2 separate regions of the Homo sapiens genome follow, and region 2 is linked to region 1. Evidence: fine-mapped expression QTL. Tissue or cell type: whole blood. Region 1 holds a variant in brackets; the other region holds the start of a gene. All regions are shown on one strand. Distances are from middle to middle.

What was found. PIP is the estimated chance that this variant, and not a neighbour inherited with it, causes the effect.
Region 2: MPND starts here. The variant in region 1 is fine-mapped to the expression of MPND in whole blood (INTERVAL, PIP above 0.99).

Annotation. Positions count from the first base shown.
Region 1 is chr19:4,366,801-4,372,868 of GRCh38, reverse strand. It overlaps SH3GL1 (SH3 domain containing GRB2 like 1, endophilin A2), which reads left to right. Exons shown (of 10, transcript NM_003025.4): 2 at 5,875-5,943. Among named protein-coding and RNA genes, the nearest start is that of MPND, 26 kb to the right of the region's middle. RefSeq lists enhancers at 1-435, 1,980-2,927, 3,380-3,569, 2,928-3,877, 6,026-6,068. The variant G/C (reference allele first, on the strand shown) is at 2,768.
Region 2 is chr19:4,340,417-4,345,972 of GRCh38, reverse strand. It overlaps MPND (MPN domain containing), which reads right to left and starts at 2,411. Exons shown (of 13, transcript NM_001300862.2): 1 at 2,373-2,411; 2 at 1,979-2,265; 3 at 1-228. The coding sequence starts at 2,379. RefSeq lists a silencer at 2,270-2,559 and enhancers at 2,628-3,359, 3,380-3,499.

The sequences.
Region 1 (6,068 bases):
CTGAAGGTTTCCAGGAAGGACAGACAGACACATCAGCAAGCCAGGAGCCTGGGAGCCCACATGGAAAAGGGGACACGAAGGCCAGTGGCTTCCTGTGTCGCTGGGCAGCAGGCCGCCTCCAGGCTGTGCGCGTCTTCGACTTTTTGACTCATGGGAAAGAAGCTGTGATGGACTCGAGGTGGCCATGTGTGTTGGGCAGTGGCTCCCAGGTGTTGGGCCAGCAGGGAAGGGCGTTGCAGATGGAAAGGGGTTCAGAGACACACGGATATGATACATCCCTACATCCTTTGCCCCTGCCCTCTTCCCACGTCAGGGCTTTTTCTACACCACAGGGATCCTTACGTCCCTCCCTGGGGCCTCCACCCCGACCCTGTATTCCAGCTGTTTTGCACAGAGGTCTGATAAGGACTCTGCTGCTTCTGCAGGCCTTACCCTGGCTTTGCCCCTTTCCATGGCTGACCAGGCCTTGAACACAGCTGCAGTGTTAGAACTGCGCCCACTGTGAGGAGGGGCTGAGCACTCGCCTCCTCCACGTCCCCTTCAGCTTCCTCCTCTGTGACGTTGGGGGCCGGGCACAGAGTGCCTAGCATGGGGGCTGGCACATGGGACTGTGAATAGTGGCCCTTGTTCCGTGTGTCCTGCCTGCCCTGTCCCTGGTCCTGCAGGTGGCTGGGCCTGGACCCCCTCCTATGGTCCCCAGCTCCCCAACCCATGCTTTGTCCTGGGGCTGTTGTCCCCTAGTCCTGTAAATGTATGGCCTTGGCCAGGCACACTGTGTCATGCCTGTAGTTTTGGCACTTGGAAGGCTGAGGTAGGATTGCTTGAGGCCGAGTTTGAGACCAGCCTGGGCAACATAGTGAGACCCCTGCCTCTTTAAAAAGAAAAAAAAAGATGAGGCCTTGTCACAGGTATTCGCTGCGGTTGACCAGCCGTGCCCACCTGCCATTTCTCCGCTCTGTGCCTGGCACTGGGCGAGGCCCCTGTGGTCTGTGCGCTCACAGATTCCGCTGAGGAGGACTGCAGGGAGGGACGCGGAGATGGCTCTGTAGCACAGCGTGCAGCACCACAGCACCACCGATGCCGACGGGCAGGCAGACACCAGCCAGAGACCCGCTCCCCAGCCGAGGGAGGACCCGTGAACTCTGCTGTGAACCTGGAAATTACCAAGCACCACAGCATGACTGCCAGTGAGACCTGAGGACCCTGGGGCCGACCCCTCTGCGGGCAAATGTGGCGCATCCCTGCAGGCTGGGCCACAGCAGCCCTCCCTTGCCCTCCCCCACGCTGGCTTTCTTCTTTAAAAGAGAAAAAAAAACAAAACCCTGTGAATTCATCAGAGCAGATAGTCTGCTGGGGCACCAAGCCCGAGACGGGCATTTGTGTTCCGTGCTGTGTGGATCAGGTTTCCCCGCTGAGATGTTTAAATCCCAAGGCCGCCCATCGGCAGCAGCCAGCTCCACTCGGCAGGATTCGGAATTTTCCTCCTGCTCCTGCCAAGTGGCCACCACAGCTGTGCCTGCCGGGCACAGGGCAGCTGCCCACACCCCTCTGGGTAAAACCTGGGATTCTCCTGCCTACGGTAGCCCTGTCCTGACTCTCAGTCCACAGTGTCTTCACAGTTCATTTCTGTATTTTTCCACCTTGTATTCTCTGTTCTGTGTGTCACATCCCTTGCTCCCCTCCAAAGAGAGCCAAAGGTCTAAACTCTAATGAATGCCAGGCTTCAAAGGAATAGCCCCCTTCTCCCAGGGGGACAAGAGTCCCATGCTCTGGGGCAAAACCCCATCTTCGTGTCCAGCTTGCTCGTTTCCCAGGTGCCTGGCTCACAGGTGACAGAGTACAGGGTCAGGCAGAAAATCCATGCGGCATGCAGGTGGCGGGTGCAGGTGGGATGCGTGAGCATAGAGTGGGCAGGTCTCCGCTGGGCATCTCTGGGCAAAGATCTGAAAGACCACAAGCCAGTCTTGCCAAACCCTGGGGAAGTGTCCGGCAGGCAACAGTGGGATCCTTCCCAGAGGCCACTGCCAGGCCTGACTGAGCCGGGGCCTCTCCCATAGTGACTTCTCAGCCCTGGTCCTCGCCTGGCAGGGTTGGCCAAACCTCACTTCTCCCTGCTCCAGGCGGGGACATGTCACAGCCTCTGTGGGAGGCCAGCCGGCATCTGAAGCAGGGGCAGAGTCTTGGAGACTGTTCCCTCTTGGGCTCGGCCTGTTTGTTCCAGGCATGGGGAGAGAAGGCGCTGGTGTTGCTCTCAGGATGGCAGCCCTTGTGGGGCCTGCGGTTGGTCACTCGGGGTTTGCAGCTGGTACTCTGACCCCGTCCAGGTGGGGCCCTGTGGGAGAGTGGGGAGGGGGCCCCCACCCACCCTGCCACCCTGATGCAGGTTCAGTCAGCGGAGGGTGGTCTCACCCCTGAGCCCTGTTGGGTCCCTGGCTACTGAGTGGCCCCATTATTTTCCTCCGTTTCCTGCCATGCGGGGTGGGAACAGGAGGCGAGCCTTGTGGGTATGGGATGGACTCGAGTGCGGAGCTGTCATTGCCACTGCTGAGTCCGCTGCACTAGTCAGGGCTACAGCCAGCCTGCAGAGTCTCCCTCGGCAGGAATGGACTGCTGGGACCATGGCCTCAGTCCTCCCTCCCCACCGGTAGGGTCTCTGATGCGGGGGCATTGGGGCTGGCTGCCCCACAACAGGCAGCTCTTGCCTGGCAGATGGCACCAGGGTTAGGAACACTCGCTCCTGACAGCGAGCCCAGAGGCGCCCTCTGGT[G/C]AGCCTCCCCGTGGCGCCCAGCTCTGCCGCAGACTCTCGGTCCCCTCCGTGCTCAGCAGTGTGCTGGTGTGGAGACCGCAGTGAGTAGGGCCCCAGCGGGCAGGAGCCCACGCTTGGTTTCCGCGCTTGCGGCCGGCGCTGCACGTGGCCCGGCTGCCTTGCTTTTCCCGTGTTTCCCTTGTGGCTGCTCATCCCTGTGTCCATCTGTGCTGGTTTCTAGCCCATAAGCCTTGGAGAGAAGGGGCCTTACAGGGTTGTGTCCCCTGCCCAGTGCCTGGCCCGTGGGGGACCATCAGTCACCACAAGGGACTTGGCTGGAGCTGAGCAGAGGGACCCGGGTAGTTAGGGCACAGCCTCCCGGGTGTCAGGGGTGCGAGGAGTCAGGCGGTTGTGGGGGTTCAGGAAGTCGTCCTGGGGCTCAGGAAGGCAGGGTCCTGGATTCCCAGGTGAGATGGGCAGGTGGGGCCAGGGCCAGAGCCAGAGGCCACCAGGTGGGTCTTTGGTACCGTGGCGGGTCCCCAGCCCCTCCCCTCAGAGGCAGGATGTGGTCCTCGCCGGTAGGGCCTCTCCTCCTGCCCTGTGAGAGGCAGGGGGCTGGGGAAGGGCCCTGACGGAGCCACTCCTGCCAGCCTGCACACTGGGTCCTGCCTGGGCAGGTCGTGGGGCCGGGGTGGCCTCCGCCCAGAAGGTGTGGTTTCGCAGCCCGCTGGCTTCAGTTCTCCTCCCGGCTTCCCAGAAGAGTCCAGTCTCACATCAGCCACTCATTTCCCTCTCCGGCAGCCGCTGGCTCTGAGCACGCCCTCTCTCGCCACAATCAAAAGAAGTGAAACTGTCCCAGGAAATAGAGTGGAACGCCCCAAAAACACCTAGGGAGGGGGGGCTCCTTCCTCCTAATGCCTTCAGCAGAAATGGAGGGCAGCCCCACTCTCCTGCCCCGCAAGGGACAGTTCCTGCTTCTCACCTGTGCCAGAGTCAGCCCTCCCGCGGTGGGTGTGACGAGGTGATTTTTTTTTTCTTTCTTCTTTCTTTTGAGATGGAGTCTTGCTCTGTCGCCTAGGCTGGAGTGCAGTGGCTGGATCTCTGCTGACTGCAAGCTCCACCTCCCGGGTTCACACCATTCTCCTACCTCAGCCTCCCGAGTAGCTGGGACTACAGGCACCCGCCATCAGGCCCGGCTAATTTTTTTGTATTTTTAGTAGAGACGGGGTTTCACTGTGTTAGCCAGGATGGTCTCGATCTCCTGACCTCATGATCCGCCTGCCTCAGCCTCCCAAAGTGCTGGGATTACAGGCATGAGTCACCGCGCCCGGCCAACGAGGGGATTTTTAAGAAGCTTCCAAGGTGCTGTGTGGCTGAGTTGAGAGCCACCAACCCACAGGCAGGAAAGGGACAGGGGTCAGAGGCATGGGGCCTGTGCTCACTGAATGCCCGGCACACCCCGCACATGAAGGCAGGTGGACAGAAAGGGTCCCGATGCGTGGGTGAGGACAGTCCCGTGGTGTGGGGGCTTCCAGAGCCAAGCCTTGGAGGAGGGCCAGGAATTCCTTGGCAAAGGGGCTGGTGTCTTTTTGGGCAGGTTGCCAGGACACAAGACCAGCCGTGTACTCCGGGCAGGCTACCTTTTGCAGAACTTGGGGTTGGGGGCATTTGCACTCATGGTGCCTTGGGCTGTGACCTCCAGGCATGGGCTAGAGGGTACACCAGGTGCCTGGCGTGGGCAGAGCCCCAGGCTCAAGCTTCTCCTGCCCCCGCACTTCCTGCTCTTGGGTCACTTCCTCCCAGGCTGGGTCCTAAACTCCTGACTGCCCTGCTGGACACCCCCCAGCCCCACACAGCCAACGCAGTGTGGCACCACACGGACCCTCATGGCATCCCTTGGCCACGTCTTGTGACAGCTCGGGGCAGGCAAGCACCAATCAGACCTGGGGAGCACCAGGGGCACAGGCCATGGCCCACGGCACGCAACACCTCACTCTCCTGCCCAGGCCGTGTGTGCACGTCTTCACACAAGTGATCAGACCCGGGATGTTAAATTTGCCGATGACTTCAGAGATGGCACACCCTGTGACACTTGGCCCCCAGAGGGCAGGGCCAAGCTTGTGACCTCAGGCGGCCTCCCTCTGGGAGCCTCCATTTGTGGCAGGGCCTGGCAGCCACTCGGCTCTTCATGAAGCGCTGTGTGCTGGGAAGGGCCTCACACTGTCCATCCTCACTCTGTGCGGCATCCCTTGGCGCCAGGCACACATGGGATACGTGGGGTGAAGAAAGCAACGCCTGTGCTCAGACAGCGGTGCTGGGGTTCAGTGGTTCCCGCCATGTTCCATGGGACATTTCAGGGCTGTTTTTCGCATCCCAGGCGCTGTCAGAGGGAGTGGTTTGGGAATTCAGTGCTTGCTTCTGCCTTCCCACCACACGAGGAAAGACGCTGTAAGTGCCTGTCATTGTCATCGCTTTCACCGTAGCTGAGAGCCGTGAGGACCAAGGTGTGCCAGGCCTGTGTTGACTGCCTTGTGAAACTCAGTGTCCACATGGGGCAAGGGCTGGGCTGTCCCATCCTGCAGACACGGGCACCAGAGCACAGGAGAATGGCGGCCTCCCTGCCCGGCTGCCTGCACCTCTTCTCGTAACTGTCAGCTCCTGCTGCCTCTCCCAGCCAAGCTGGCAGGATTTTTTTTTTTAAGTAGACCCCACATACTCAAGGATGGGGGCAGATCCCCACATTGCTATCTGTGGGGATGTTTGTGTAGGCGCTTCTGGAAGCAGTGTCTTCTGAGCCATGTGTTCTCAGGCTGAGGCTCTGGACTCCACCGTGGCCCAGATGGGGCCTACTGTGGCAGGGTCCCCAGTGGGTATGTGAGTGGCAGTCGGGACACACACAGGTGGGCAGGCCACCCCCACCCTCCCCCTCCCCCTGCAGGCCCACCCTGCTCTGCAGGCAGCGTGTGGCCCTGGGGTGCCCACGGCAGTGCCTGAGGTGTGTGTCCTGATCACTTGGCCTCCTGCCTCCAGCTGTGGATGCGATGTGGCTGGAAGGCGGCTCAGGGCCTCCTGTCCTCTTCTTCCTCCTACCCCTGGGCTCACAGCGTTTCCCCTCTTCTGTCCTCTAGCTGGTCAGTGAGAAGGTCGGAGGGGCCGAGGGGACCAAGCTGGATGATGACTTCAAAGAGATGGAGAAGGTGAGGAAGAAACTGCGTGCTCTGTGTGGTGGTGGCACTGCTGGGGCCTGACCTCTGCCGGGCATAGTGGAGGCGGCCAACCTTGATGGGCCTGGGTCTGGAGTGATGGGGCCCGGCAGGTGTGG
Region 2 (5,556 bases), 27 kb after region 1:
AGCCGTGGCAGGCGTGTGCAGCTGGTGCAGCCGGAGCCAGGTGGCCTTGTACTTGTCCAGTTTCTGGCCTTTGTACTTGACAGAGGCCCAGCCACAGCCCGACTTCTTGGCAGGGTTCACCAGCTTCTTGCAGTGGGTGGCCCAGGCGCTGGGTGAGTTGAAGGTCTGCCCGGTCTCCTGCCACATGATCCTTCCGTCTGGCTGCAGGTCGCCCAGGAACTTCTTCCCCTGCAGTGACAGTCAGCTGGCTGGGCCCAGGACCAACACCCACCATGCCCTCTCTCCCGGGGGGTCCTCCCCAGACCTACGCTCCCTCAGGCATGTCTTTACAGGGCTTCCAGGAACACCTCTCAGGCCGGCTGCAGGGCCTCCTCAGTGCCTGGGAGTCCACACCCACAAACCTGATCAGCCTGCACCAAGCTGCCTGGCAGATATCTGCACCCCGCCCACCATGACCAAGAAACCCCTAAGATCGGGGATAGGGTCTGTCTGTCTTGATCACTGCTGTGTCTCCAGGATGCAACACTCAGCAGTTGCTCCATTCAGAAACTCCCATTCAGAAGGGGAATAATGTGCTACCATTCACAAATCAAACAATAATGACAACAGTAATAGTAATAATACAGGGCTGGGTGCAGTGGTTCACGCCTGTAATCCCAGCACTTTGGGAGGCTGAGGCGGGCGGATCACCTGAGGTCAGGAGTTTGAGACCAGCCTGGCCAACATGGTGAAACCCCATCTCTACTAAAAATATAAAAATTAGCCAGGCGTGGTGGCGGGTGCCTGTAATCCCAGCTACTCAAGAGGCTAAGGCAGGAGAATTGCTTGAACCGGGAGGCAGAGGTTGCAGTGAGCCGAGATCATGCTACTGCATTCCAGCCTGGGCAACAGCGCGAGACTCTGTCTCAAAAAAAAAAAAAAAAAAAAAAAAAGGCCGGGCATGGTGGCTCACGCCTATAATCCCAGCACTTTGGGAGCTGAGGCAGGCGGACCACGAGGTCAGGAGTTCAAGACCAGCCTGGCCAATATAGTGAAACCCCGTCTCTACTAAAACTGCAAAAAAAAAAAATTAGCCAGGCGTGGTGGCGCATACCTGTAGTCCCAGCTACTCGGGAGGCTGAGGCAGAAAATCGCTTGAACCGGGAGGCAGAGGTTGCAGTGAGCCGAGATCGAGCAACTGCATTCCAGCCTGGGCAAAAAAGCGAGACTCTGTCTCAAAAAAAAAAAAAAAAAAAAAGTACTAATACCTACCACAGATAAAGTGCTTACCATGTGGCAGGCGCCTGCTGAGGGCTTTATTCATTTAACCATCCCCTAATTTTCCCATGGTGGGGAAATATTCCATTTCACGGCTGGGAAACCACAGGAAGGCCGGGGTGTTGCCCATCTGACCCTGCGCGGGTGGTGGCTCCTCTCTGAGCCTCAGCTTCTCCTTTGTGGGATGGGGTGTTTGGTAATCTACGTCCTCCCCACCAGAAGGACCCATCTGTGCCTCAGATTCCTCTCTCCACATGGGGCTTGTCCCGTAAAAAGAGCTCCGGGCCTCAGTGTCCCCTCCACGGGAGCTCCTCCTGCAGGAAAGGAGCTCTGGGCCTCAGTTTCCCCTCCCCACACTGGGGCTTGTCCTAAAGCAAGGGAGCTCTCCAGGCCTCAGTCTCCCTTCCTCACACCGGGGCTCTTCCTGCCGCCAAGGGAGCTCCGGGCCTCAGTCTCCCCTCTTCATGTCGGGGCTCTTCCTGCAGCCAAGAGAGCTCCGAGCCTCAGTTTCCCCTCCTCACACTGGAGCTCTTCCTGCAGTCAACGGAGCCCCGGGCCTCAGTTTCCCCTCGCCACACCGGGGCTCGTCTCTCAGCAAGGGAGCTCCGGGCCTCAGTGTCCCCTCCCTACACTGAAGCTTGTCCTGCAGCAAGGGAACTCCAGGCCTCAGTTTCCCCTTCCTGCCCGAGCCGCGATGGGACGAGGGAGGCGGGGTGCTCACCAGGTAGTAGATGGACAGCACCCCGGCGCCAGGCTCCAGCAGCGCGTCTTTGAGGAGCACCCGCAGTGTGACCGCGCGCCTGGTGAGCGCGCCCCCGGGCCCGCCGCAGCCCCCCGCCCCGGCCCCGCCGCCGCCGCCTCCTCCGCTGACGCTACTGCCGCCGCCGCCACTGCGTCCACCGCCCGCTCCCGCATTCGGCCGCTCAGGGTCCTCGGCCTCCGCTTCGTCCTCGTCCTCCTCCGGCGCCTCCTCGCCCGCACCGCCCGCCGGGGACAGCGGCTCCGGAGCTGCGGACAGCGAGAGGCTGCAGGGAGGCCGCTCGCCCCACGGCTCTGCAGCCCCGCGCCCCTGCAGCCCCGCGCCCCGCGCCTCCGCCCCGCTGGGCCCGCCGTACCTGCCATGGCCGCGCCTCCCCGCGCCCGGAGCTCTAGACTCCGGCTTCCCGGCACGTCACGCGGCCCCGCCCCGGGGAGGGGAGGGGCGCCCCAACCATTGGCCGTCGCCGGGGTCGGGGGAAGGGCTCGGCGCGCTGGGGTGGGCGGAGAAACTGAGGCCTCGGGGATGCCCACGCGGGAGAGAGATCGGGAACTCAGCCCTCTGGGAACATTCGGGAAACTGAGGCGTGACGGGGTGTTGACCGGGAGCTCATTGGTGCGAATGGGGAAACTGAGGCCTCGCTGTCCAGGGATAGAGGTTGCAAGGTGGAAGCCTGGGGCGGGTGCGCGAGTGGCTCAGCCTGCTGCAAGGAGAGGAGAAGGTGAGACCTGCGGTCACCGCACTTGAGGAACTCAGAGGCCTCGGCCTTTAGGACCAGGGGAGAAACTCAGGTCCAGGGGAACAATGCGGACTCCAATAGGGAACAGCCTCGCGCAGACACAGGTGGAGCCAAAGAGCCCAAGCCGGCCTCAGTCGCTAAAGAATTAACTCCCACCCTCCCGGGCGGCCCTCGACTGATTCCATGATTGGACCGTTGCGGAGCCCGCCAGCCAATGATAAGAGTCCCATTTATTTCACCCTCAACCAATCGATAGCAAGCTACTGGATTCCCGCACCAACCAATCCGTGTCAACTATCTGATTACACCAACTCGGATTTGACCAATGGGCAGACGTCCATGTAAACCAATCAGTAGAAACCCTTAGTTATGAGCGCAAACCATCAGAGGCAGGGACTGGACTCACCAGCCAATCAGCTCCGGGTATAAGGCCAGCCGAGTCCGGCCCTCCATACCCTTGGGCGGAGCAGGAGGCAGGGCCGGGCTCGTTGCGCGCCTGATCAGTGCAGCCCCGGCCTTTGTCCCCTACCCTGTTTCTGCAACTACATCCCCGACCCTGTCCTGGGACCTTCGTCCCGGAGCCCAGGCTCTGGGATTTCCCTCAGTCCCTGGCAGGGTTGAAAGTCCGGGATGGGGACTTCCTAAAGCTCCGGGACGCCGTGGGATGGGCTCAAGTGCGGGTGGCTTTGCCCAGACCGCAGTCGGGAAGTGGGAACTGGACAGTAGGGGTGCGGGGGAGGCTCTCCAGGGTGCTCGGGAATGTTCTCAGGAAGAAGACTTGACATAGAGCAAGAGCTGGGTACATGTGAACTATTGTTGTCCAGCCCAGGCACCCTTTAGGGGCCCCACCCTGACTGTCCAGCCAACAACGGGCATCCCCAAGGCCTGCAGACTCAGCATAGCCCAAACCGGCCTCAGTTTATTTCCCCAACTCCTTACGCACTTTCTCTTTGGCTTTTTTTCCGTCCCCTGCCTTCCAAAACCCTGAGCCACACCTCCAGCCTCTTGCACCCAAATCCTGGCCATCGCAGTGAGTCTCAGGCCTCCAAACTCATGCCCCACCCTGTCGGTCTTCCACCATTGCCCCAGAGGGCTCTTTCTAAAATGCACCTATTACCACCTCCCTCCCATATTATTATTTTGTTTTCTTTTCTTTTCTTTTTTCTTTTTTTTTTTTTTTTTTTTTTTTTTTTTTTGAGACGGAGTCTCGCTCTGTCACCCAGGCCGGAGTGTAGTGGCAAGATCTTGGCTCGCTACAACCTCTGCCTACCAGGTTCAAGCGATTCTCCTGCCTCAGCCTCCCAATTAGCTGGGACTGCAGATGCACATCACCACACCCAGCTAATTTTTGTATTTTTAGTAGAGAAGGGGTTTCACCATGTTTGCCAGGCTGGTCTCGAACTCCCAACCTCAGGTGATCCACCTGCCTCAGCCTCCCAAAGTGCTGGGATTACAGGTGTGAGCCACTGCGCCCAGCCTATTTTCTTTTCTTTTCGAGACAGGGCCTTGCTCTATCTCCCAGGCTGGAGTGCATTGGTGTAATCATGGCTCACTGCAGCCTTGGCCTCCTGGACTCAAATGATCCTCTTGCCTCAGCCTCCAGAGTAGCTGAGACAACAGGCGTGACCAGCATGCCTGGCTAATTTTTAATTTTCTTGTAAAAGAAGGGGATCTCACTATGTTGCCCATGCTGGTCTCCAAGTCCTGGCCTTAAGCAATCTTCCCACTTGGGCTCCCAAAGTGTTTGGATTACAGGCGTGAGCCACCGCACCCTGCCCTCCTCTCATGCTGTAAATCCTTCTGTCGCTCCACATTGCCTTAGACAAATACAATAAAAACTAACCACCCTGGCTGGGCACAGTGGCTCACGCCTGTAATCCCAGCACTTTGGGATCACTTGAGGTCAGAAGCTGAAGACCAGCCTGACCAACATGGTGAAACCCCATCTCTAATAAAAACAAAAAAATTAGCCGGGGGTGGTGGCAGGCACCTGTAATCCCAGCTACTCCAGAGGCTGAGGCAGGAAAATCGCTTGAACCCGGGAGGCGGAGGTTGCAGTGAGCCGAAATCATGCCACTGCACTCCAGCCTGGGCAAAAGGAGCAAAACCCTGTCTGAAAAAACAAACAAACAAAAAAACGAAACAAAAATCAACTCTCTGACCTTACTTAGTATAGCTGATACTATCAACTTTATCAGACAGTTCAGTGGATGAACACATTGCCACAGTCCCACGGCCTTTCTGTGATTTCTAGAACACCTGTTCTGCTATGTATACAAAGTCTAGCCCTGGTAACTACTAAGGAAATTGAATTTGTAATTTAAAAACTCCCAAAAAAGCAATCTCCAGACCCAGATGGTTTCACTAAGGAATTCTGCCAAAGGTTCAAAGAAGAATTAACACCAATTTCACATCATCTCTTCCAGAAAATTGAAGGGGACACTTCCCTGTTCATTTTATGGAACTATGACCCTGATACCAAAACCAGATAAAGACGGTACAAAGAAAGCAAGCTACACCCCATATCCCTCATGAAGACGTGCAAAAATCCTTAACAAAATATTACAAAGTAGAATTTAACAATATATAAAGTGAATTATACACCATGACAAGTGGGGTTTACTCCAGGGACCCAAGACTGATTCAGTATTCAAAATTAATCAATTGTCCACCATATTAAACAGGCTGTGGTAGGCAGAATAATGGTCTCTTAAAGATATCCACGCCCTAATTCCCAGAATCTGTGAATACGTTAGGATACGTGGCAAAGGGATTTGAAGATTAAAGATAGACGCCAGGCACA